Linked DNA regions of Homo sapiens. The protein of the gene in region 7 purifies or fractionates together with the protein of the main gene of each other region. This does not show direct contact. Each region holds a gene or a part of one and is shown on either strand. Other genes may lie near its edges. The genes, in order: HK2, MOCS2, SYNPO2, TMEM9B, PWP2, XPO4 and IPO13.

Region 1 (3,500 bases), on a different chromosome or scaffold from region 7:
GGGTCTCACCAAAGAGGTGACATTTAAGCACAGACCTGAATGGAATGAGAGGGTCAGCCATGGTGTATGATATATATTTTATATACCTGTAAATCTCCCATGCAATTGTCTGAAAGGAGAATATTGGGGTTCACCTGTGAACTGGGCATCTGCTTCTTCCCTCTCAGGAGTTTGACCTGGATGTGGTTGCTGTGGTGAACGACACAGTCGGAACTATGATGACCTGTGGCTTTGAAGACCCTCACTGTGAAGTTGGCCTCATTGTTGGTAAGGACCCAGACTGTCCTTTCCACATGGGGATGCACAGCCTTGGGTGTGGAGGGGTTGGTGCTGAGTGAGGCCCTGGTATCCTGTGATTGGCAGGCACGGGCAGCAATGCCTGCTACATGGAGGAGATGCGCAACGTGGAACTGGTGGAAGGAGAAGAGGGGCGGATGTGTGTGAACATGGAATGGGGGGCCTTCGGGGACAATGGATGCCTAGATGACTTCCGCACAGAATTTGATGTGGCTGTGGATGAGCTTTCACTCAACCCCGGCAAGCAGAGGTAGGCACCCAACTGGGGCCCTGTTAAGTGTATCCCAGGACTGGATGGCAACAAGTGATCAGAGCTTCCACAATGGCATCTCCCAGGACGCCGGTTCTCGTGAGATGTTAATAAAGGAGGTTTTCTTGGAAAGGGTTTCTTGTCGAATGCACCTGGAAAGTTCTGAGTTAGTAAATGTAAGAAGCATCTCCCACCCAAAAGCCTAGGAGAACAGGTGGGAGAATACTAGACCCTAGGTCTGGCACTCTAAGGAGAAACAAGTAGAAAGTTGAAGCACCTGCTGCTGACAGGCTGAAGAGCATCTCTTGGGTGATGCAGACAGGAGCAAATCCTCTCCCTCCTCCATCTTCCAGCGCCGAGCACCACCTACTGTCAGAATTGAGCAAGGGGCCAGCCCCAGTGTCACAAGGTCCTGTGCATGGTAGGGGAGCGGGGTCTGAGCTAAGAGACAATAGCTTAAGATCTAACACACTTCTCATTAAGATGTTGTCTGTAGTGTTTCCTAACTAGATTAATCAAACACCCTAGTCCTGCAGAATACGCTTTGCAAAACATGTGTCTAGAATAGAAGTTACAGACTAAAATGCCTCTAGGGGCCAGGCAGGCAACATTAATGAAGGAAGCAGGCTGGGTCAAGATAAGATGGGGTGGTGATGGGCTATTGGTTGAAACTAGGGACCTCGTTTTTTTTTCAAGGCAGGATTCAGGACCAAAAGACCCTCAAGCCACTGCATAATAACGTTTAGTTCCAGTGGCCAGGATGGGGGCCCTACAGCTGGCAGTAGTTACTTGAGTAATGATGGTTAGGTCCAAGAGAATGTATACTGAATGCCTAGTGAGGTTAAAGATTAAGACTCAGCATTCTCCCCTGCTCCGAGAAGTCCAGTGGGGTTATGGTGTGTTCCTTCTCGAGTTGCTTCTTGAAATTTCGAAATAAGCCTTGGAAAGGAAATGAGTTCCTTTCCCTGTGGGTTCCTTTCCAAGGCTTATTTCCCCAGGAGCCCCACGGGCCTCGGGCACTGTGGTCAGTGTTGCTGAAGGTTGTGAATTAGCATGCAAAGACACCAGGGATCCTGCCCAAGTGAATCAAGTAGCAATTCCTTTCCCATCAGGGGAGTCTGCCTGTCTGCCACTGCTGATGCACTGGGGGTGACTAAGCTGGCCTGTCCTGTCTCAACACATCCCTCCACCTTCCTACTTAACCTCCATGAATGTTACTTGCATTGCAGGTTCGAGAAAATGATCAGTGGAATGTACCTGGGTGAGATTGTCCGTAACATTCTCATCGATTTCACCAAGCGTGGACTACTCTTCCGAGGCCGCATCTCAGAGCGGCTCAAGACAAGGGGCATCTTTGAAACCAAGTTCTTGTCTCAGATTGAGAGGTGAGAGCTTAGGGCTCAGGGTAGCAGGGGGGCCATGTCCTTTTTTCTCACTGGCAGACAAACTGAAGGATTTCCATAACTCAGGGCATGACTCATACAAAAGTCAGTTTAGTGGCAAACACATTCATGTCTATAGTGTTTACTAAAAGCACATTATGGGCAGTTGTCATTTTAAGGGCAAACAGAGCATTCTCATGAAAGTTTGTGCTAAGCCTGGCCTGAGGTCATGCAAAGTGATATTGTTGGGTTTTAGACCATGTATCAAAGGTAGAAAGATACCTGCTCATAGCATGTAAATTGAAACGCACAGAGGAAGATAACCTATTAAAGCATCCACACTTGGCTTGAAAGCCCTTCCTAACTGCTGGCTGCAGTAATCAGGCAGCCAGGATTGAGTAAAGGTTGGAACGTCAGGCAATGCAGACACATGCCACACAGTGGCTCATTAGAGCAAAGCCTCCCTCCTACAGTCAAATGGTGGAAAATCTCCAAATTAGAACAGTGAATTTCAGAGCCCTTTAAAAATTAATGCTGTGCCATTACTCTCAGGGCAGAGAAGAACAGGAACTAGACAACTGATGTGAGTAGACCCCTCGGGCATCTGCACCAGTGAATAGAAAGATATATTCTAGCTTATAGGTCTGTTATGTTCAGCGAGGTGATTCCAGGCTTCTAAAATAGCTTTCTTTATATAGGAGGGTTTATTTTCTTTCTATAACTTTATTTACACTTCCTTCGTAAATAGCATATAAATACAGTTCAGACCACCCAGAGCAGCAGAGCAGAAATAAAGCACGAGTCTAATGCTGCTTGGTTAGTTCCTGCCCTGCAAACCCATGAACAGCAGCGAGAAAATGGACATGAAAGAGCTTTGTAACTGACCACTGTGATAAACAGTGAATTTGCTTTGTTTTGAGTATCTACTTTGTAGTAGTAATGGTCTATCTGGAGTAGGGAGAGTAGAATGAGGAGCTGTTTGTATTCCTGTCACCGTCAGGAAGAGTCAATGCAGTGCAGTAGGTTGAGCAGTGGTCTGAATTTAGGAATGGGAACCACCTCGAGGGGCCAGCTCCTGGAGAGCTAGACCCCCACAGAGCCTCCCCTGTAAGGACTCAGGCCCTGGTGTGGTAGGCTACCAGCCTTCTTGGTGCATGACTGAACACTTGCTGTCTCCCTCCCACCCCAGTGACTGCCTGGCCCTGCTGCAAGTCCGAGCCATCCTGCAACACTTAGGGCTTGAGAGCACCTGTGACGACAGCATCATTGTTAAGGAGGTGTGCACTGTGGTGGCCCGGCGGGCAGCCCAGCTCTGTGGCGCAGGCATGGCCGCTGTGGTGGACAGGATACGAGAAAACCGTGGGCTGGACGCTCTCAAAGTGACAGTGGGTGTGGATGGGACCCTCTACAAGCTACATCCTCAGTGAGTGCCTGATCCCAGCCCCCCCTGCCTACCTTCTTTCTGTCTTTGTTCTTTCCCTTTTCTTTCTCTCTTTCCTTTGTTACTTTATAGTGAATTATCAGCCATTCCAAATAGTGTATATAATACATGGATTATAGTTTAAAGATTC
Region 2 (3,500 bases), on a different chromosome or scaffold from region 7:
GATTATATTTTAGTGATCATGTTAATAATGGATTACTTTTTATGTCATGCCTGATTCATTATGAATATTTATACACATAATTGAGTTTTGTTAATTTTTACACTTGCTTATTTTTATCATTCAGATCAAATCATGCCTCCTAACACATTTAATGGTGGGGAAAAAAAGAAAAGAAACTTTTTATCTGAGGAATGTGAGCCCGTCAGATAAAACATTAAGAGGCACAGAAAGGCACTGGAATGAAATGGCAGTCATGTCACTCCCCATTAAGCTGCATCATTACCTTTTTTTTCTTTTTTTTTTTTTGAGATGGGGTATCACTTTGTCGCCCAGACTGGAGTGCAGTGGCATGATCAGTTTCAGCTCACTGCAACCTCCACCTCCCAAGCTCAAGCAATTCTCCTGCCTCAGCCTCCCAAGTAGTTGGGATTATAGATGTGTGCCACTACCGCCTGGCTAATTTTTGTATTTTTAGTAGAGACGGGGTTTCACCATGTTGGCCAGGCTGGTCTCAAACTCCTGACCCCAAATGATCCACCCGCCTCGGCCTCCCAAAGTGGTGGGATTACAGGTGTGAGCCACTGGTCCCTTGAAGCCACTTATTATGAGGGCTGCAGACTAGCTGAAGCTAAGAAACCATAAAGTCCATATGCTGGACACTCTAACTTGTACCCACCCTATAGTTCAACAGTGTACAGCCAATCAGTGATCAACATTATCTCTGTATGCCAGTGAGAATTCTTGGTGAAACTTTGTATCATTGTATCAGCCCACTTTTTGTTCCCTTTGCCTTTACAAACCTGCTTGCAACAAAGGCCGAGGGAGTGCTCCCCAAAGGAACTCCCCAAGGTATCTTAGAAGCATCCTGGGCCACTGTCCTTGATTTGACTCATGTAAACTATATTTTGTGCCACAGCCTCTTCCTTTTACATCGACATAATGTAGAAAAAAATATAAATTGAAAGAGCCTATAAGTTGTTGAGTGTTTTACCCCTAGGACTTCTGTTAAGGTTTGTTAATGTATTATTTCTAGGAAAGATATGGATGAAGTTGAAGAGAAATCTAAAGATGTTATAAACTTTACTGCCGAGAAACTTTCAGTAGATGAAGTCTCACAGTTGGTGATTTCTCCGCTCTGTGGTGCAATATCCCTATTTGTAGGTGAGTTGTAATTTTCATTGCATCTATCACTGTATAAGACAATAGAAATTAGCATGTGCTTTCCATGTTCAGTGTTAACGGAGGAGTTTGAAATACTGAACTTTAAACCAAGATTACCGATGATGGTGGGTAGACTTTTTTTTAGTTCTTGTTTTGTTTTAGTAACCTTCAAATTAACCTATATTAAATTACAAGGCATTTTGAAAAGTAGGATAAAAGTCATTGTTAGGAGAGAGAATTCTAGATTTTCCAAAATTGAAGGTAAAAATGTACTTGATAGTCCTGGGAACATAAATATTTTCCTTTTAAGTATCTATTAGTCAGAAGAGGAATATTGCCCGGTTTGCCAGGTGAGTGTTTTTAGTAAGCTTGCTTAATCAGTGCTCATCTTTGTGAAGATCTGTTTTATTTTCCTAATCAAATTTTGTTTTTAGAAGATTTCAAAGTAGTTTTAGAAGAATTGGTATGCTGCTTGTTTACTATTAATTTACTATTAAAAATATTCCTTTTTTATTAACGTGCTATTTCTTTTGTAGGGAAAAACCTTATTTTAATTGTTTTCTTTTTCTTTTTTTTCATTTTTAAAGGGACTACAAGAAATAACTTTGAAGGGAAAAAAGTCATTAGCTTAGAATATGAAGCATATCTACCCATGGCGGAAAATGAAGTCAGAAAGATTTGTAGTGACATTAGGCAGAAATGGCCAGTCAAACACATAGCAGTGTTCCATAGACTTGGGTATGATTTCCTTTATCACTCTAAAAGTTAAGTGTAATTGTTTTCCATCTTTGTACTAACTCTGATTCTTGAATCTTTCTTAGTAATTCTATATTACCATGAGAGGAATATTCATGTATTATTTTTGGAGGACAATAGGGATGGCTGTTAGTACCTTTAGGGACTGCCTAGTGAGTTTTGATATTGGGAGAGCTCTTGTTGCCTCTGTTGCTGTAACAAACTGCAGTTGTGCCAAGACTTGCAGGCCCTATGACAATCTGTGACAGATTCTTTTTGATATAAATGCCTCGAAAGTCATTAGAGTGGTTTGCCTTTTTGTACCCCTAAAAAGAGAAGAGTTCTTGGCTTTAAAAAGAAGCCAGTAATTGAGACTGTATCTATCATACTCTGTTAGTTACTAGTTTGTTATTAATAACCAGTAGTTTTATTAATGGTTATTATCACTCCTATTACTTGATATGTATTATTTTAAATTTTGTATTATACTCGTTAGGACATAACTTTGTATTTCTAGGCATTACTTGGCACTGTGCCTTGTTGAGTCAGATGTTTGCTCTATCAATGAAAGGATTTTCCTTGGTGCCCATCAGGAGGGTTTAGTGGATAGATTCTAACAAATTAGCTGTAGCATCAGCCTCATCTACTGCCTCTGCTGAATGCTACTGCAATTAATTACTCTTTTCTAACTGTATGTTTACGTAAAATAGAACTACAGTATAATTCTAAGACTGCATACCTGGATTTTTTTTCATCTGTCTAGCAGATTCTTTAACACGTAGATTCAGAGATGATGGTGATTTTTTTTTCTCTTCATCTTGTTAAAGCTTGGTTCCAGTGTCAGAAGCAAGCATAATCATTGCTGTGTCCTCAGCCCACAGAGCTGCATCTCTTGAAGCTGTGAGCTATGCCATTGATACTTTAAAAGCCAAGGTGCCCATATGGAAAAAGGTAAGTTAAGAAAATAACACATTTTAGCATGTGGACCTGATTTTTCTCAGGAATTTTTAGATAAATCCCCCCATATTTATGGACTTTTTACTGACTGTAGTATCTTGTTTTCTTTATCTGTGAAATATCTTCTTTCCAAGATTTGTTAAGCATGAAAAATATGTGCCCCAAAGAATGCATGGCACACAGTAAGCCTCAATGAGTGATAACAGTGAGAATTCCTAGTCTGGACTGTTGGAGGGGTTCATACATGAAGTTATTTTCCTTGGATTATAATTCCCTTGAATTAGAGGGTCTTTCTGTTGGAGAGTGAGAATAATGCATTAGCTATTTAGGTAATGGCTAAAATAGAAATTCTTTAAAGTGAAAGAGGCTTTTCCTAGAGGTCCTTTTTAGGGAAGAAAAAAAAATGGTGAGATATTGCTCCCTCTGAGAAAATGCAGTGAGTGGATTTAAAAACAGAAATAGGAACTTCTGGCATGTTTTCTGTCAATAAGGGCAAGTAATTCTCTGGTTAAATAGAGCATTCTGATGGGATGAAAAGGCCCAACTCCCTAGTTTCTCCCCTGGTGTAGTAACATTAACAGTGGGATTGTTCTGTGGTTGCACATTCAATGTCTAGAATTGTCTAGAATTGCCTACAGCGTTGTGGT
Region 3 (3,500 bases), on a different chromosome or scaffold from region 7:
TCTAACCTATTGTTATTCCTTTCAAAGCATATTTTTAGCATAACCATTTGTAGCTTTATTGGCAAGTGCTGTTAATCATTCCTTATACTTTAAGCATCTGTAGGCCATCTTCACATTTATAGCATATTAAACAAGAGTATTGAGACACCATTCACATACTTTACATGTTGGCAGTGAAGTTAGCAGCAACTGTGCAACTGTGACTGTCAATTTAATAAGTTGTATAACACTAGTCAAAAAAGGAATTCTATTTAGTAATAACCACAGTTTCAACTATTTTTCTCTAGAAAATTCGATCACCAGTAAATGCCTGTAATCATATTATAAAATTATTTCCTTGGATTATATTTTATTTAAAAAAAATTAACCATTAAGTCTGTGACAAAAAGAGCTAATTTTCAATCATAAAATAGTCAAAAATTTTTTCTTAATTTTCCACTTAACTGTTTTGAGGAATTAAAAAATTTAGGGGACTCACAGTCATTATCATTGAAAATATGATATAACTATAAATTATAAATGATAGATGCTATATGTTTAGTTGCTATAATTTGCCACCCATTTCTTTTTTATAATAGTAATAATGAAAGAAAATTTTAAATATTTTTATTTTTATAAAATAAAAATCATATTCTTGTTTTAAATGACTTAATTTCTGCATCAGTTTTTACACAGTTAAGTGGGTCACAAGTCAATTTTTAAATTTCTCCAAGGTTTATTCTTGCTGCAAGGAAAGTAATATTGTATTTCCAAAATAGCAATACATTTACAAACAAATCTGTCTAGAAAACTTTGTAGCTAGAGTTTCTTATATGTATTTACAATAATGTCATATTTTGAATTTTAATTATTGATTCAGTACCTTCAATGATTAATTCAGTGTTTTGAATTTATATTAATCCAGTAGCTGTGAGTGGAAAGATTTGGGGTGGTTGTCAGGGTAAAAAAAGAAAAAAGAGAAAGAAGAAAACCTAAATAGCTAAATTCATTACATTAAAACATTTAGAAAATTTTAAAACATCTTCTTGGGACGCTCCTCCCTTTTTAAGATTCCTGGAAACAGTTTTATATTGACACTTTATTTTAAAATATGGAAGTATGAGATATGTCTCATCTTGTTTTTCAGAAAATATTATGTCTTTAAATTATGTCCTTCTTAATTCTAATTTTATCCTATTAATTGACATTTACTAGCCAGTTTTTATTATTAAAGTGGAAGGATCTCTAGAGAAACAAATGTATGAAACATATATTCTAATCAGCATATATAAAATATTTTTATGTAAACAAATAGAACAGTATATTATTGTAGAAGGAAACATGTTAAGAGAAATAAGAAAAAGAAATGTGTTGGATTCCTTCAAAATTCTGTACTCAATGGCAATTTTTTACATATTTATTTTCCCCCAGGAGAGTTCATTTCTGAGTTGCTGTGGTGTCTTCCTTGAACTCATCAGCTCAATATAATTTTTTTTTTTTTGCTTTCCCTAGGGCTCAGGAGGAGTGAAAGCCTGTCAGAAAAACAAGTGAAGGAAGCAAAATCTAAATGCAAAAGCATTGCCCTTCTTCTAACGGATGCTCCCAACCCCAACTCCAAGGGGGTGTTGATGTTTAAGAAGCGACGTCGGAGGGCCAGGAAATACACCCTAGTTAGCTACGGTACTGGCGAGCTTGAGCGAGAGGCGGACGAGGAGGAAGAAGGTGACAAGGAGGATACATGTGAAGTAGCATTTCTTGGTGCAAGCGAATCAGAGGTGGATGAAGAGTTATTGTCTGACGTTGACGACAACACACAAGTTGTGAACTTTGACTGGGATTCTGGACTGGTGGACATTGAAAAGAAACTGAACAGAGGGGACAAGATGGAGATGTTACCAGACACCACAGGCAAGGGAGCCCTCATGTTTGCCAAGAGGAGGGAGAGAATGGATCAGATCACAGCCCAAAAAGAAGAGGACAAGGTAGGTGGAACGCCAAGCAGAGAACAAGATGCTGCCCAGACCGATGGCCTGAGAACCACGACTTCTTACCAAAGAAAGGAGGAAGAGTCGGTAAGAACGCAGAGCTCTGTGAGCAAAAGCTACATCGAGGTGAGTCATGGTCTTGGCCATGTTCCCCAACAGAATGGCTTCAGTGGGACATCTGAGACAGCAAACATCCAGAGGATGGTCCCCATGAATAGAACGGCCAAACCCTTCCCAGGGTCTGTGAATCAGCCAGCTACCCCCTTCTCGCCAACCCGAAACATGACGAGTCCCATTGCTGACTTTCCTGCACCTCCACCTTACTCTGCAGTCACTCCTCCCCCTGACGCCTTCTCCAGAGGGGTTTCAAGTCCGATTGCTGGCCCAGCACAGCCCCCTCCATGGCCCCAGCCTGCCCCGTGGTCCCAGCCAGCCTTTTACGATTCGTCTGAGCGAATAGCTTCCCGAGATGAGAGGATCTCAGTGCCAGCAAAAAGAACAGGAATATTGCAGGAGGCCAAAAGGAGAAGCACGACAAAACCCATGTTTACTTTTAAAGAGCCCAAAGTAAGCCCAAATCCTGAACTCTTGTCACTCCTTCAAAATTCAGAAGGCAAACGGGGCACTGGAGCTGGAGGTGATTCCGGACCGGAAGAAGACTACCTCAGCTTGGGGGCAGAGGCTTGTAATTTCATGCAAAGCTCCTCTGCCAAACAAAAGACCCCTCCTCCTGTTGCTCCAAAACCTGCAGTCAAGTCCTCATCCTCCCAACCAGTAACTCCAGTTTCCCCAGTCTGGTCTCCAGGAGTGGCTCCCACCCAACCTCCTGCCTTCCCCACATCCAACCCATCAAAGGGCACCGTTGTCTCCTCCATCAAAATAGCCCAGCCTTCTTACCCTCCTGCCCGGCCTGCAAGTACTTTGAACGTGGCTGGTCCCTTCAAAGGACCACAAGCAGCAGTAGCCAGTCAGAATTACACACCCAAACCAACAGTTTCCACACCAACAGTCAATGCTGTTCAGCCTGGTGCAGTGGGACCATCCAATGAGCTTCCAGGAATGAGTGGGAGAGGAGCTCAGCTCTTTGCTAAAAGGCAGTCGAGAATGGAGAAGTATGTGGTCGATTCAGACACGGTGCAGGCCCACGCTGCTCGAGCTCAGTCTCCCACTCCATCTCTCCCGGCCAGTTGGAAGTACTCCTCCAATGTCCGAGCACCTCCTCCTGTGGCCTATAATCCTATCCACTCGCCGTCTTACCCACTGGCTGCTCTCAAGTCTCAGCCATCAGCTGCACAGCCCTCCAAAATGGGCAAGAAAAAGGGAAAGAAACCCCTCAATGCATTAGATGTCATGAAGCACCAACCGTATCAGCTCAATGCATCCTTGTTTACTTTCCAACCTCCAGATGCAAAGGATGGCCTCCCCCAGAAGTCATCAGTCAAGGTCAATTCAGCCCTGGCCATGAAGCAAGCTCTTCCTCCCCGGCCAGTGAATGCTGCCTCACCTACGAATGTGCAGGCTTCGTCAGTGTACTCG
Region 4 (3,500 bases), on a different chromosome or scaffold from region 7:
CACACCTGGCTAATTTTTATATTTTTAGTAGAGATGGGGTTTCACCACGTTGGACAGGCTGGTCTCGAACTCCTGACCTCAAGTGATCCACCCGCCTCGGACTTCCAAAGTGCTGGGATTATAGATGTGAGCCACCATGCCTGGCCTGAAACTGGATTTTAAAATGTTTTAAATCTACTAAAATTTATAGAATTGTATACTTATAGTGAGTGACTTTTAGGGTACATAAGTTGTATATTTTTTACAAATCTGTTAAATAATAGTACAGTGAGGATTTATCTAAAGTTCAGCACCCTGCTGGAGCAAGAGCTCTTCCACAGGGTCAATCACAGCAGAAATGTTTGTGACTATTATAACTAACCACCCCACATTCCCCACAGGGCCTTTTGGGGGGAAAGGAATGGGAAGTGCCATGTAAAAAAAAATTAGGCCAGGCGCGGTGGCTCACACCTGCAATCCCAGCACTTTGGGAGGCCAAGATGGGTGGACCACGAGGTCAGGAGTTCGAGACCAGCCTGACCAACATGGTGAAATCCTGTCTCTACTAAAAATACAAAAATTAGCTGGGCGTGGTGGTGCATGCCTGTAATCCCAGCTACTCAGGAGGCTGAGGCAGGAGAATCGCTTGGACCCAGGAGGCGGAGGTTGCAGTGAGCCAAGATTACACCACTGCACTCCAGCCTGGGCAATAGAGCAAGACTCCATCTCAAAAAAAAAAAAAAATTGGAAGAAAAACCATTAGCCACTATAATAAAGTAACTGAACTCATTAGAAATACAAATGGTGATGAGAGTGATCTACATCCCATTTACTACAGCAATACTCCACAACCTTTTTGGCACCAGGGACGGGACCAGTTTCATGGAAGACAATTTTTTCATGGACCAGGGGTGGTAGGGGATGGTTTGGGTATGATTCTAGCACATTACATTTATTGTGCACTTTATTTCTATTATTATTACATTATAATATATAATGAAATAATTATACAGTTCACCATAACATAGAATCAGTGGGAGCCCTGAGCTTGTTTTCCTGCAACTAGACGGTCCCATATGGGGGTGATGGGAGTCAGTGACAGATCATCAGGCATTAGATTCTCATTCTCATAAGGAGCATGCAGCCTAGATCCCTCACATGTGCAGTCCACAATAGAGTTCATGCTCCTATGAGAATCTAATGCTGCTGCTCATCTGACAGGAGGTGGAGCTCAGGTGGTAATGCGAATGATGGGGAGCAGCTGTAAATAAGATGAAGCTTTGCTCACTTGCCCACTGCTCACCTCCTGCTGAGTGGCCCAGTTCCTAACAGACCACAGACTGGGCTGTGGCCTGGGGGCTGGGGACCACTGTCCTACAGGAAATGAAGAGGGGAAATCTTAAAATCCAGAAGTAATAGTTCTAGAATAATTACTATATATTTAATTTTTTCAAAGGGCTGGAAAGGCAAGGAGAGGAGGGCTTATAAATGCTGCTCTCTCAGCCTCTGGCACACATGGCCTACACAGAAGCTGGGATATCTTTCTGGAATATGCTAATTACACATAGGGCATTTTTGTGCCATTTCACATATCTATCTAACATACCCTAACTAATCCACAAACCATGTCAGTGAGGCAGGCAGAACAGGCCCATTATTCCTTTTGGGGTAGGGGTCCAAATTTTTCTGTCTTGTCTAGAAACCATCCAGAAGCAGAAAAGACGTAGACAGACAGACAGACAGGTAGATAGAGGGATATATATTTTACCTTGATTGTGACAGAGCTTCTTTCTTCATATTTGCATTCACAGCGTAGACAGTATGCTTCTACATCAGGCCCCCGCACAGGCATGGGCTCCACAACATGAAGGCAATCACTGAAAAAACAAAGATAAAATGCTGCTTAAGCCCAGCTAGCTCTTCTGCTTGCTCTGACCAAAAGTTTCCTGAAATCTAGAATAATCACTAAACTTACCCAATGAAAGAGCATAAAAAACAAATAATCAATAAGATAAAGTAAAATAATTTCTGCTCTCAATATTAGCATTTTGGTAAGTTTTAACCATTTAAGAAGCCACAAAGTCACACATATAGTAGTGTCTATTTTCAAAGCTGCTACTGTTAACAGTTACAAAAACGCACACAAAAAATCCCAAATGGGATGAAAAACTACTTAACAAATCAAGTCACCTTTAGACTTGTTCAGTTACTAAGGAAAACTACTTAAAATGGTTTAAAGTGATATGGGGCACTGTTCAAATATAAGATTATCTCTTTTGTGAATTAACATCATTCTTTTTTGTTGTTGTTTTTTAAGAGACAAGGTCTTGCTCTGTCACATGGGCTGTAGTGGAGTGGTGCCATCATAGCTCACTGCAGCCTCAGACTCCTGGGCTCAAGTGATCCTCCTGCCTCAACCTCCAGAGCAGCTATGATTACAGGAGCCTGCCACCATGCCTGGCTAATTTTTAGATTTGTTGTAGAGATCAGGTCTTGGTTTGTTGACCTAACTTGTCTTGAATACCTGGCCTCAAGTGATCCTCCTATCTTGGCCTCCTAAAGTGCCGGGATTACAGGTGTGAGCCACCGTGCCCAGCCAACATCATTCTTAACTGCCAGTGTGGTGTATGAATGACTAACCACGTTTAACAGCGTGGTAAATTCTGAAACTCTGAAAATTGAACCCTCAAAGCCACACACAGGAAGAAACAATCACTTTTCTTAATGAGCAAATCTGAAAAAGCAAGGAGAAATAGAATAACTAAAATATTTTAAAACAAAAACTGGTTATTCCAAAGAACTAAATAAAAACTAACAAAGGGATGAGTGTTTTTGTTGAATGTTACTTATTTCCCCAACCCCATTTTCAAGGCTAATTATTTATGGTTTGTGTAAACACAGTGCTATCAGATTTTTCCTAGAAATCTGTCAATTCTAAGCAATAACTAAATTATTATTCTCCTCAACTATTAAGAGTCTATGACTCTGATCACCTTCAGCAAAATTAGGGAAAGCTTTCCTGTCCTCCTGCCAGCTGTTGGACAATTTTCTTTCCTTTTGGCATCTCTTCGTTAGGCATTCCTGGCTGCCTCAAGCACTCTACTACACCATCCTATCTTATCTTACCCATTCTCTTGGGGACACCCAATACTCTATAGAGTGATTCCTTCTCTTTCCCCACCAAAATGTACTTTTTGGAAACAAAGTTACAGCTTGGTGGGAGGAATAAGTTCTAGTGTTCTATATCCCTGTAGGATGACTATAGTCAACAATAATATATATTATAGTTTCAAATAGCTAGAAGGAGGATTTTGAATATTTTCAACACAAAGAAATGATAAATGTCTGAGATGCTAAATATTCTGATCAAATCACTATATCTTATATGAATTGAAACATCACTATGTATCCCATAAATACGTACAGTTATTGTGTCAATTAAAAATTAATTTCAGCCGGGCGCAGTGGCTCATGCCTGTAATCCCAGCACTTTGGGAGGCCGAGGCGGGAAGATCACCTGA
Region 5 (4,077 bases), on a different chromosome or scaffold from region 7:
TTAAAATTAAGTTTTAAAATGAAATCAGACACTGCAGGTTTGTATATAAAATGAAAAGCTATACTACTTTTTACAAAAGGGCAAACTGGGCTGATGTAAATGTTTTACTTTCAACTGTGTTCTTTAAAATAAATCCTACCTGGTTTTTAAATTTTATTTTTCATGAAAATGCTCCTTTCTCTACATTTATTCATCCTATATACATCAGGCTGTAAGACCCCCCCCAGTCATCATTAATACAATGTGTTGGGATTCTGTGACTGGAAAAGGTGACAAGTTGGTGACTTTGACACTGCAGGTATTCCATTTTCATGGTTTACTATGAAAAGTCATTTTTCATATTATGTAATATATTGTTAGATTAAAACCATTGTATTAAGACTTTAAAATGTAAGCATTGTAATTCTGAAAATACACATTTTAAGAAGAAACTATTTTGCACTGGATCTTTTGCTGCGACATGGTGTGACAACAGTATGTAATGTGAAGATTTTATTGTTTTATCTCCCTAGTCCTTGTTCCTGACTCTTGGGCATAGATTATTTGCCTTTTGGGAAACATTCGGATTATTTTTTTTTTTTTTTTTTTTTTTTTCTCTGAGACAGTCATGCTCTGTTGCCTAGGCTGGAGTGCAATGGCGCGATCTGGGCTCACTGCAGCCTCCGCCTCCCAGGTTCAAGCCATTCTCCTGCCTCAGCCTCCCGAGTAGCTGGGACTACAGGCATGCGCCTCATTTTTATACTTTAGTAGAGATGATGTTTCACCATGTTGGCCAGGCTAGTCTCGAACTGCTGACCTCAGGTCATCCACCCGCCTCAGTCTCCCAGGCGTGAGCCACCGCACCGGCCAGCATTCGGGACTTTATTCATAATTCCTTACCCAACAGTTCACAAGAACGAAGACATTTGGGTGTGCAGCGCTCTCATGTTGTGGACGCTGCTGTGCCAGGCTGGGCGTCCGTGCGGAGCGCGCCCAGCGCTGGAGCGCGCCTAAGAGGCGCCCTGCAGTGTGGCTCCGGGGTGTGGGCGGGGCCCGGAGAAGGCCCCCGCCTTGGGAGGGGTTGGGCCTCGCGTTCAAACTCCGCCTCGGGGCGGGGCGAGGGCGACGCAGCTCCTCCTGCCTCCTGGGCCGCTGCGGACGGTGGTGCGCGACCCCGTCCCGGGCGCGCGCGCTGTGGGCGGTGCACGCCGTCGCTTCCCGGAAGTGCGTGCTGTGGGCGGTGCCGCGCGGACCCCCGGGAAGTGTCTCTGTGGGCGGCCGCCGGGTTGAGCTGCGGCACACGTGCGACGGCCGTGATGAAGTTCGCTTACCGGGTGAGCGCGGGCGGCGGGCGGTCTGTTGGATCGGCGCGGCTCTTCCGGTGGACGGCGCCTGAGCTGGCTCCGGGCGGGCTGGGGGCGCGTGGTCTGCTTTTGCGGCGTCTGGCCGCGTGGGGGTCGCCGGCTGTCTGCGCGCCCGTGGCCTCGGGGACGCGGGGCTGTGGTGGGGCTCCTGGGAGAGCTGGGACGGAGGCGCCGACGGCTTCTCGGAGGGAACAGGGACATTTGTCGGGGTCCCGGGATATTTTTAACCTGAGTATGGCCCAACCTAAAGGCTGGAGTTGGTGCAGTCGGGGAGGGCACAGCACCCTCGGGAGGGATGAGGAGGTGGGACGGGGCGGGGACGCGGGCGCGCGCAGGCGGGGTGAGAACAGCAGGGACCCGGGGCCCGGGACTGGTCCCTAACGAGCGAGCGTCCAGGTGAGCGGAAGGGCGGGGAACCCAGGTGTGAGCTCTGTTTCCCGAGGCCGGAGGGAATTCCTGAGGCGGACGCCCTCAGCTTTGAGAGCCAGGGAAGACTTGTCCCAGATGTGAAGTGCAGGAGGCGGGTGAGACAGGTAATAAGAGGGGGCCGTGGAGCCGGCCTGGGGGTCTCTGAAGCGTTTGCTACAGCTGGCCGGTTATGGGGACGCCTGTGTTTCCCACAGTGGCCCTGACCGTTGCGCTTCCAGGGTTGCACGGGCCGCCTGCTGCTGAGCCCACCGTGTACTACACTTGTCCTGTCCGAAACTGGGCATGGTACTGGCCCCTCAGAGTGCTGCTCCTGTGTCCCCTGTGCTGGTGGAGCCACCGCTGTGTGCCCAGCACCAAACCAGAAACCATATCCACGTCCTCACAGGCCAGGACTTCATCCGCTCCACATTCCTACTGCAAGGTGGCAAAAAATGTGCCTTGGAGCCTGCCTGGCCGCTTAAAGTCCTTCTGCTGACCAAGCTCCTCCCTGAGGTCCTGAGGGCGCTGCCCACTCACAGCTTCAGGGCCTGGCTGGTGCCTTCCCATTTAGATTCCAGCTCAGGTGACCCTTCCAGGTGCCTCTCCGTGACCACCGTCTAAAGTAGCCCCTGCTCCCACACTTCTCATCCCCCTCCTGCTAGAGAGAGAATATAAGGTGTGCGTGTCTGTGCGCATGGCAGTCTCCAGTGAACGCTCGTGCTCGTGAGTTAGTAAATAGGATGCTGGCTTACCACACTTCTGGAAGCCCTGAGTTCTAAGCACTTTTGGGGTGCTGTTCCATTGTTGCAGCTTTTTTCTTGGTGAAGTGTGGGCTCCATGCCCCTCTTCACCTGGCAGACGCCTCCTGTCTTGGGAGGCTTCCTCAGTGCTCACAGGGGCATCTTACCCATCTCTGTGGGAGCTTGGGGCCGCCCGGGCTCCTCTGGTCTCCTGAGGATCAGGCTCACTTCTTCCTCTCTTACCCAGGAAAGGTGAACGGGCCCCCAAGGTGGGGTTCTCTATGCCATCTCTCTGCCCAGATGCCTCACTTAGTGCTTTTCTGGGAGTCGACTGTTTTCTTTGTGTTAAGACAATTTTGTTTTCTTCACAGTTTTCAAATTTGCTGGGTACGGTGTACCGGCGTGGGAACCTAAATTTTACCTGCGATGGAAATTCAGTTATCAGTCCCGTGGGCAATAGAGTCACTGTATTTGACCTTAAAAAGTAAGTATGTGAAAGTGGTATTCATAATAGTGATACTGATTACTATTATCACCATTTTTTAAGTAACATATGAAAACTGATAGTGTCTTCTGTGCCTTCCTTTTAATGGTGCACCCGTTAATTAAGGGAGCCCAGGACAGGACTACAGGACAGACTAGGGTCAGCAGATCAGTTGTGGAAATTGGCAGCCAGACCCAGTTCTTCGTTGTAGTGCCTTAGCCAGGCCCCATAAAGTGGTGTGTCACTTGGCTCCGTTCTGTGGGAAGGGACCCTGTCCCTGTGCTGTGAAGGGTGGGTGGGGGAAAAGGTGTAGCTCAGGGTTAGCCCTTCCCCCATCAGGGAAGGCCCCTAAGGGCTGAAAGGCCAGGGCTGCTGGGGGAGTTGAAGGTACCTTGGACCCCTGCTCGGGAGCCCTGCTGCCACTGGGCCTCACCAGTCGGACGGGCAGGCCCAAAGCTTCCAGCTCTGCAGCCGGAGGTCAGTTTTATTCGCTGGGGTTTAGCGGTTTCTTCCTGTGTGCTGTTGCACTTTGCTTCACTTTGTTGCACTCTGGCTCTGTGCGGATGCTGTTTTACCACGAAGCGAAGGTGTGTGGAAACACTGCTTGGAGAAAGTTGGTCGGTGCCATTTTTCCAGCAGTGGGGGCTCACTTCATGTCTCTGTGTCACATTTTGGTAATTTTGTGATATTTCAAAGTTTATTATACCTGTGAGGGTGATTTGTGATCATCTTTGCTGTTGCTATCGTGATTGTTCTGGGGTGCCGTGATCCGTGCCCATGTAAGACAGCGAGCTTAATCGGTAAGCACTGTGTGTGCTGTGCCTGCTCCACCGACCGGCTGTTCCCCACCCCCCCACGTCTCTCTTCCTCTACTTGGGTCTCCCTATTCCCTGACACAAACAATGCTGAAATTAGGCCAGTTAATAATGGCCTACAGTGGCCACTACGTGTTCATGTGAAAGGAAGAGTCACACAACTCTCACCTGAAATCAGAAGCTAGAAGGGACTCAGCTTAGTGAGGAAGGCATGTCAAAAGCTGAAATAGGCCAAAAGCCAGGTCTCTGCCACCAAACAGGCAAGTTGTGAATGCAAAGAAAAAGCT
Region 6 (3,500 bases), on a different chromosome or scaffold from region 7:
TTTTTGCTTAATTTTTCATTAGGTAACTCATATAGTTGTTTTATGGAAATCAGCATAGAATTTTAGAACATAGAAGAATCTTAGATCTTTTGGTACAGAAGTCTTAGGGAGTCTAGGATGAATATCAAAAGGAAATTGTAACAAATTTTTTGGTGTAAATGTACATTTTTAGTAATAGGGTCTAGAGCTTTTATCACCGTCTCTGAGAGACTAGAAACTGAAAAATAAGAATCAAGTCTAAGCATTCTCCCTTCTATGCTACAGATGGGGAAACTGAGGTTCAAAGAGGTAGAAGTGACTTGCCCAAGGTAGGTCACAGAGCAAATTCATGATATAACTGATCCAGGCTGAGATCACCAGACTCCCCTTTCAAAACCTTTACTCTTTTTTTTTTTTTTTTACTTTTTTTACTCAACCATGTTGGTTCTTAGTCAACATATACTATAAATGTTACATTTTATTACTTGATGGAAAATGTCTAAATATGGTACATCTATATTCAATCAATTTAGATTATTGGATAAGCTGCCAGATAAAGTAGTACAGTTGTCCCTCGGTGTCCATGAGAGGTTAGTTCCAGGAACCGCCTCCACCCATGGACATCAACCGTGCATTGATACTTAAGTCCCCCCGATCCCCTCCCTTTCTTTTGAGACAGGGTCTCTGTTGTCCCAGCTGGAGTGTAGTGGCATGATCATGGCTCACTGCAGCCTTGAATGGGTAATTTTTTAAAAATATTTTTTTGTAGAGAGGATCTCACTGTGTTGCCCAGGCTGGTCTTGAGCTCAAGTGATACTCTTGCCTTGGCCTCCTAAAGTGCTGGAATTATAGGCGTAAGCTACTGTGCCCAGGTGAGTTTCTTACATGATATGGTATGGTAATTGTGTATGACCTATGCACATCCTCTTGTATACTAAAATGTAGGAGGTGTTTTGATTTTAGAGACAACATTATTGAAAAGTTTAGTGTTCTTATAGTATTGATGCCACATTCATTTGCAGTCCAAAGAGCGCTTTATTTATTGTCTTGAATTTGCTTGGTTTTGTTGCCCTGTCTTCATTAGGTTGTTTTGGATTGTCCTTAGTGATTGTGTGTAGCAATAATATAAGATAGTGCAGAGCACACATATTAACTGATACATTATAGAAAAGTAATTTTCATAGGTTTTTTTTTTCCTTTTTCTTTTGAGACAGTCTTACTCTTGCCCAGGCTGGAGTGCAATGGCACAATCTCAGCTCACTGTAACCTCTGCCTCCCAGGTTCAAGTGATTGTCCTGCCTCAGCCTCCCAAGTAGTTGAGACTGCAGGTACCTGGCACCACGCCTGGGTAATTTTTGTATTTTTAGTAGAGATGAGGTTTCAACACGTTGGCCAGGCTAGTCTTGAACTCCTGACCTCAGGTTATCCTCCCACCTTGGTCTCCCAAAGTGCTGGGATTAACAGGCGTGAGCCACCGCACCCGGCCCATACATTTGTTTTTAAACCAGGATGGATTTAGTGAGTGTAAATCCAACTTTAATAAACGAGATTCATGACTGGTTTTCATAGATTTTATTATAGTGGAATCTGGTTAATATCTTCTAAAATACTTGCACATCTGTAGTCCTATAGAAAAATTTTTGTCTTCATTCTCATATCAGTCCTGTGAAGTAAATAGGATGAGATATTCCTAAACCTTATAAATGAGAAAACCTGGCCAGGCATGGTGGCTCACACCTGTAATCCTAGCACTTTGGGAGGCCAAAGTAGGTGGATCACCTGAGGTCAGGAGTTCGAGACCAGCCTGGCCAACATGGCGAAACCATGACTCTACTAAAAATACAAAAATTATCTGGGCGAGGTGGTGCATACCTATAACGTAATCCCAGCTACTTGGGAGGCTGAGGCAGGAGAATCACTTGACCCCAGGAGGCAGAGGTTGCAGAGATTGTGCCATTGCACTCCAGCCTGGGCTGTAGAGCGGGACTCTGTCTCAAAAAAATAGAATAAATAAATAAATAAATATGAAAACCTGATATTCAGAGATGGCAAATGATTTGCCTGTTGTCATGTAGCTAGTTTGGATCTGGAATCCAATTTCTGGCCATTGATTTGTTTTAGAACATTTCTTCAGTATATAGAAACACAGCATGTTAGACACTATGCTGTGTATGCTGAGGAGACAGAAGAAGCACCTTCTTTTCAAGGAGTGGAGAAAGGCAAAAATATTAGCAAATGTTGGTTGGTAAAGTTATAATAGAAGTAGGTACAAACATCTATCTCAGGCTGAGATAGGGACTGAGAAAGGGCTTCTTGGAATAGGTAACCCTTAAGCTGAATCATGAAAAATAGATTAGAGTTTTCTAGTTTGATAAGCAATATCCCAGGTGGAGATATATATTTTGGGGAATATAGTCTGAGAGAATATAGTTTGGGGAAATACAGTGAGTTTGAGGAATATTTGAGCATTTATGTAGTAGATATTTCCTGAGACCTTCAATGTGTAAGGTACACTGCCTTTATTTTTTTGTAACCACAGTACACGTCATAAAAATGAAAATTTTAATTAATTGAACCTACTTTTCTTATTTGAAAGATGCATTATAGTAAGTATGCATTTTTGTTTATTTCAGCCCTGTCTTGTAGTACCTGCGGTGGCACTAGATATTAGAAAACTGGCACAGCATTCTTTTTCTCAAAAAAGCTAATTAATAGGAAATTTATGTTTCAAATTCAGTTCAATTAAATGTGTATTTGCAGTTGGACTTGTGTCACACTAATTGGAACATAGCCAGTGATCCAGAGAAGAAATGCAAAAAGGCATTTGAAATCATCCATAGATGCCTAAAAGGCAGTTGTTAAAATTTAACAGCATTTTATGATTAAAACAATTGGATAAACTAGGAATTGAAGGGAATTCTCAATATGATAACAAATAGTTATCTGAAACCATGTATTAAATGATGATATCCTCAGAAGTAAAACGGGAGTCCTAATATAACTGTTATTTAATACCTTCTGGAGGGTCTAACTGATACAGTAATACAAAAAATGGGAATAAGTGCAGATATTGGAAAGAAAGGCCAAAAAATGATTATTTGCAGGTGATATGACATTTCGGAAAAAAAGTTTAAGCAAAATAACTAAGACTGTTGGAACCATTAGTTCTTTGGAAAGATGACCAGATGTAAGAAAAATAAATGGGTTGCAAGATTTCCTTTATATCAGCAGTGATCAGCTTAAAATTGGAAAAAAGATCCCATTCTGTTAGAAAGAAAAACTGTAGAAATAAATTATAGGGCACTGATAAGAAACATGCACCATTTTTGTGAAGAACATGATACAGCTTATTTGCAGAATATAAAAGAGCTGAATTAAATGAAGGCTATGCTCCTTGGTCTGAAAGGTCAATCCGGTTAAGGTGGCAATTTCTCCCTCATTCATCTCTAAATTGAATATAATGTCAATCAAAATCTCTCTTTCCTCCTCACCCTTTTCTGAGGTGGGAGAAAAATTAATTG
Region 7 (2,286 bases):
GGCCGTTTCTTCAGCTATATGGAGTCCAGAATTGCTCAAGTACCAAGGGAACATGAGGGGATGGCCTGAGGAGGAGTGGGGAGTAGGCGGAAGGCCCCTTGGAGGGAGCTGGGGCAGGCCCGTCCTTCACTTTGCCGTCTCTTTCTGTTGGGCTTCTCCCAGTTCATGGTTTTTGTATGTTTTGTTTCTTTATCTTGCTTCCTGCTGCTCATGTGCCCCCACGCTGTCTCCCTGCAGGCTCTCAGTCCCACATAACTATATGAGGTTGAGTTGCTGTTTGTATAATTTTTTCTTAAGTTCCATCTTTATTATATTTTAGGGCCCAGGGATCATCCTGATATTGTTGATTCATTTATGCAACTCCTGGCACAGGTGTGTTTTAGTTTTATTCATTCACGTTCTGTTCTCTCTCTTTCTCTTTCTCTTATGTTGAAATTCAATTTAAGCCTATTTTTAGCTTTCTGTTGACAAATTTTTTTTCTGTTCAGTTGAATAGAGTTTCTTCATCTGTTTCCGTGGAAGTTGACAACCCAACATCCTCCTTTAGTGCCCCTATGCCTCACTAGCTCAGTCTTCTACAAAGACCAGGGAGAGGCTGATCCCAAACGGAGGGAGCTGGGCTGGCATCGGGTGGGGAATGGGAAAGGGAGGGGGTGGTGACTGCGCCCAGCAGCTTCTTGTTGCCCAAGAAGTTCACGTGTAGGGCTGGAGTTGAAGGGTCTGGGGTACACTGTCCCCGTGCTCCTGCCGGGAACTGCCTGCCTCAGTGCCCCCAGCCTGCTCCTGAGAGGTAGGCTGGGAGCAGCTCCAAAGCGAGGGGCTGAAGAGGAATGTGCGCGGTGGAGCCCAGAGTTGGGCTGTTGGAGAGGTTGAGCTGCTGCTAGGAGGTGGAGTGCAGGCTCCATGCTAGGATGTGTTTGCATTTTGTATGTGTTTCAGTGTGTGAGACCTTATTTTGTATGTTTTGAGTTTGGTTTGGGAAGGGAACAGAAATCACCTGTAAGTAGTATGTGAATTGTGTTGGGTGCTGAGATGAATGTGTGCCTTGATGTGTGCTGTATGTTGATGTGTTGTGTGTTTTGTGTTGTTTGTTGATGTGTTAGGCCTTGATGGATTTAGAGCGTGGACGTGTGTTGGAGGTGTGTGTGTTGGGTTGTCGGAGTGTATATTATGGAGGATAGGAGTGTATGTTGTGGCATTGGTATGTCTGTATCAGAGTATGGTTTGGAGATGCATGTTGGGCTGTGGGGGTATGAAGTTAGTGTGATGGGGGCTTCTGTGTGTTAGGGGATCCTAGCACGCAGACCCCCTAACCTGTGAATTGGGGTAAATGGAGTGTTTCTTTGCTTAATCATTCCACAGATATTTATTGAGTGTGTGATACATGCTGTACTTTGCTAGGTACTGAGGATATGATAGCGAGCAAAACCAGGCACAGTTCTTGCTCTCCTGGAACTTACAAGTCTAGTTTCTGGGGGATGGGTAGGGTGGGAGGAGGGAAGAATAGGGAGTGTTCTGGGCCTGGATGGATATGTGTGTGGGTGTTTTCAAAGGTGTATCTTTGATGCGGAGGGTGTCTGAATGTGTATTTGTGGATGGGTATGTTGGAAGAGTGCACAGGGGGACTGTGGGAAGGCTGAGGGTGTAGGTGTGTGGACATGGTTTGGGGATGTGCAGGTGTTTGGTGTATGACTGTGTAATGAGGGTGTGTTCCAGATGGGGAGAGTGTGTGTATGTTAGCGGTGTTAGAGAAGTGTGTAAGGAGGGCATTTCAAGTGATGGTGCATGTGGGGGTGTTTGCACATGAGTAAACATGGGGGGTAGAGGGGATGTGAGGGGCTGGAGGGTAGAGGTCTATGTGGTATGCACTGGGGGCATTGCTGGGGAGCAGCAGTGTTTGAGGATGACTGGAGCTGTGCAGAGCATCTCCTGTGACCTGAGGATGTGCCAGTCATGTCCTGGTACCACTCGGGGCAGGCCATCTGCCCCCTTCACTTCATCTCTTCCCCCTCACCCACAGCAGCACTGGCTCCTTGGTGTGTGTATGGCCGAAGAGGGCCTGGACACAGGGTACCCTGGGTGAAAGATGGGGCTGAGGCTCCAAGGCTCCTGCTGTACTTTTCTTCTTTTTGAGCAGGAGCTGGAGGGTGCCTCAGGAATACAGGAGGGACATGGGAGGAGGGCTGTTGGGCTGAGGGCTCCCTGTCTGGCTGCCATCTCTTCTTCCTGCTACCCTGTTCACAAACTGGGGGTGCTTAACTCCCTCTGTGAATCAACATGAAGTCA

The links.
Region 1: the proteins of IPO13 (region 7) and HK2 purify together in Homo sapiens (affinity purification with mass spectrometry; one large-scale study listed by BioGRID and IntAct). This does not show direct contact.
Region 2: the proteins of IPO13 (region 7) and MOCS2 purify together in Homo sapiens (affinity purification with mass spectrometry; one large-scale study listed by BioGRID and IntAct). This does not show direct contact.
Region 3: the proteins of IPO13 (region 7) and SYNPO2 purify together in Homo sapiens (affinity purification with western blotting; one study listed by BioGRID). This does not show direct contact.
Region 4: the proteins of IPO13 (region 7) and TMEM9B purify together in Homo sapiens (co-immunoprecipitation; one large-scale study listed by IntAct). This does not show direct contact.
Region 5: the proteins of IPO13 (region 7) and PWP2 fractionate together in Homo sapiens (co-fractionation; one large-scale study listed by BioGRID). This does not show direct contact.
Region 6: the proteins of IPO13 (region 7) and XPO4 fractionate together in Homo sapiens (co-fractionation; one large-scale study listed by BioGRID). This does not show direct contact.

What each region holds. Positions count from the first base shown.
Region 1 is NC_000002.12:74,886,127-74,889,626, forward strand, and holds part of HK2 (hexokinase-2), read left to right. Parts: intron 1-167; coding exon 168-267; intron 268-363; coding exon 364-547; intron 548-1,776; coding exon 1,777-1,932; intron 1,933-3,118; coding exon 3,119-3,352; intron 3,353-3,500. UniProt on the Homo sapiens protein: Catalyzes the phosphorylation of hexose, such as D-glucose and D-fructose, to hexose 6-phosphate (D-glucose 6-phosphate and D-fructose 6-phosphate, respectively).
Region 2 is NC_000005.10:53,099,758-53,103,257, reverse strand, and holds part of MOCS2 (molybdopterin synthase catalytic subunit large subunit MOCS2B), read left to right. Parts: intron 1-1,033; coding exon 1,034-1,161; intron 1,162-1,748; coding exon 1,749-1,899; intron 1,900-2,723; coding exon 2,724-2,847; intron 2,848-3,500. UniProt on the Homo sapiens protein: Catalytic subunit of the molybdopterin synthase complex, a complex that catalyzes the conversion of precursor Z into molybdopterin.
Region 3 is NC_000004.12:119,028,354-119,031,853, forward strand, and holds part of SYNPO2 (synaptopodin-2), read left to right. Parts: intron 1-1,491; coding exon 1,492-3,500. UniProt on the Homo sapiens protein: Has an actin-binding and actin-bundling activity. Can induce the formation of F-actin networks in an isoform-specific manner.
Region 4 is NC_000011.10:8,954,443-8,957,942, forward strand, and holds part of TMEM9B (transmembrane protein 9B isoform a precursor), read right to left. Parts: intron 1,857-3,500; coding exon 1,748-1,856; intron 1-1,747. UniProt on the Homo sapiens protein: Enhances production of pro-inflammatory cytokines induced by TNF, IL1B, and TLR ligands. Has a role in TNF activation of both the NF-kappaB and MAPK pathways.
Region 5 is NC_000021.9:44,106,122-44,110,198, forward strand, and holds the start of PWP2 (periodic tryptophan protein 2 homolog), read left to right. Parts: upstream 1-1,277; 5' UTR 1,278-1,295; coding exon 1,296-1,313; intron 1,314-2,862; coding exon 2,863-2,975; intron 2,976-4,077. UniProt on the Homo sapiens protein: Part of the small subunit (SSU) processome, first precursor of the small eukaryotic ribosomal subunit.
Region 6 is NC_000013.11:20,896,247-20,899,746, reverse strand, and holds part of XPO4 (exportin-4), read left to right. Parts: intron 1-3,500. UniProt on the Homo sapiens protein: Mediates the nuclear export of proteins (cargos), such as EIF5A, SMAD3 and isoform M2 of PKM (PKM2). In the nucleus binds cooperatively to its cargo and to the GTPase Ran in its active GTP-bound form.
Region 7 is NC_000001.11:43,963,950-43,966,235, forward strand, and holds part of IPO13 (importin-13), read left to right. Parts: intron 1-319; coding exon 320-372; intron 373-2,286. UniProt on the Homo sapiens protein: Functions in nuclear protein import as nuclear transport receptor. Serves as receptor for nuclear localization signals (NLS) in cargo substrates.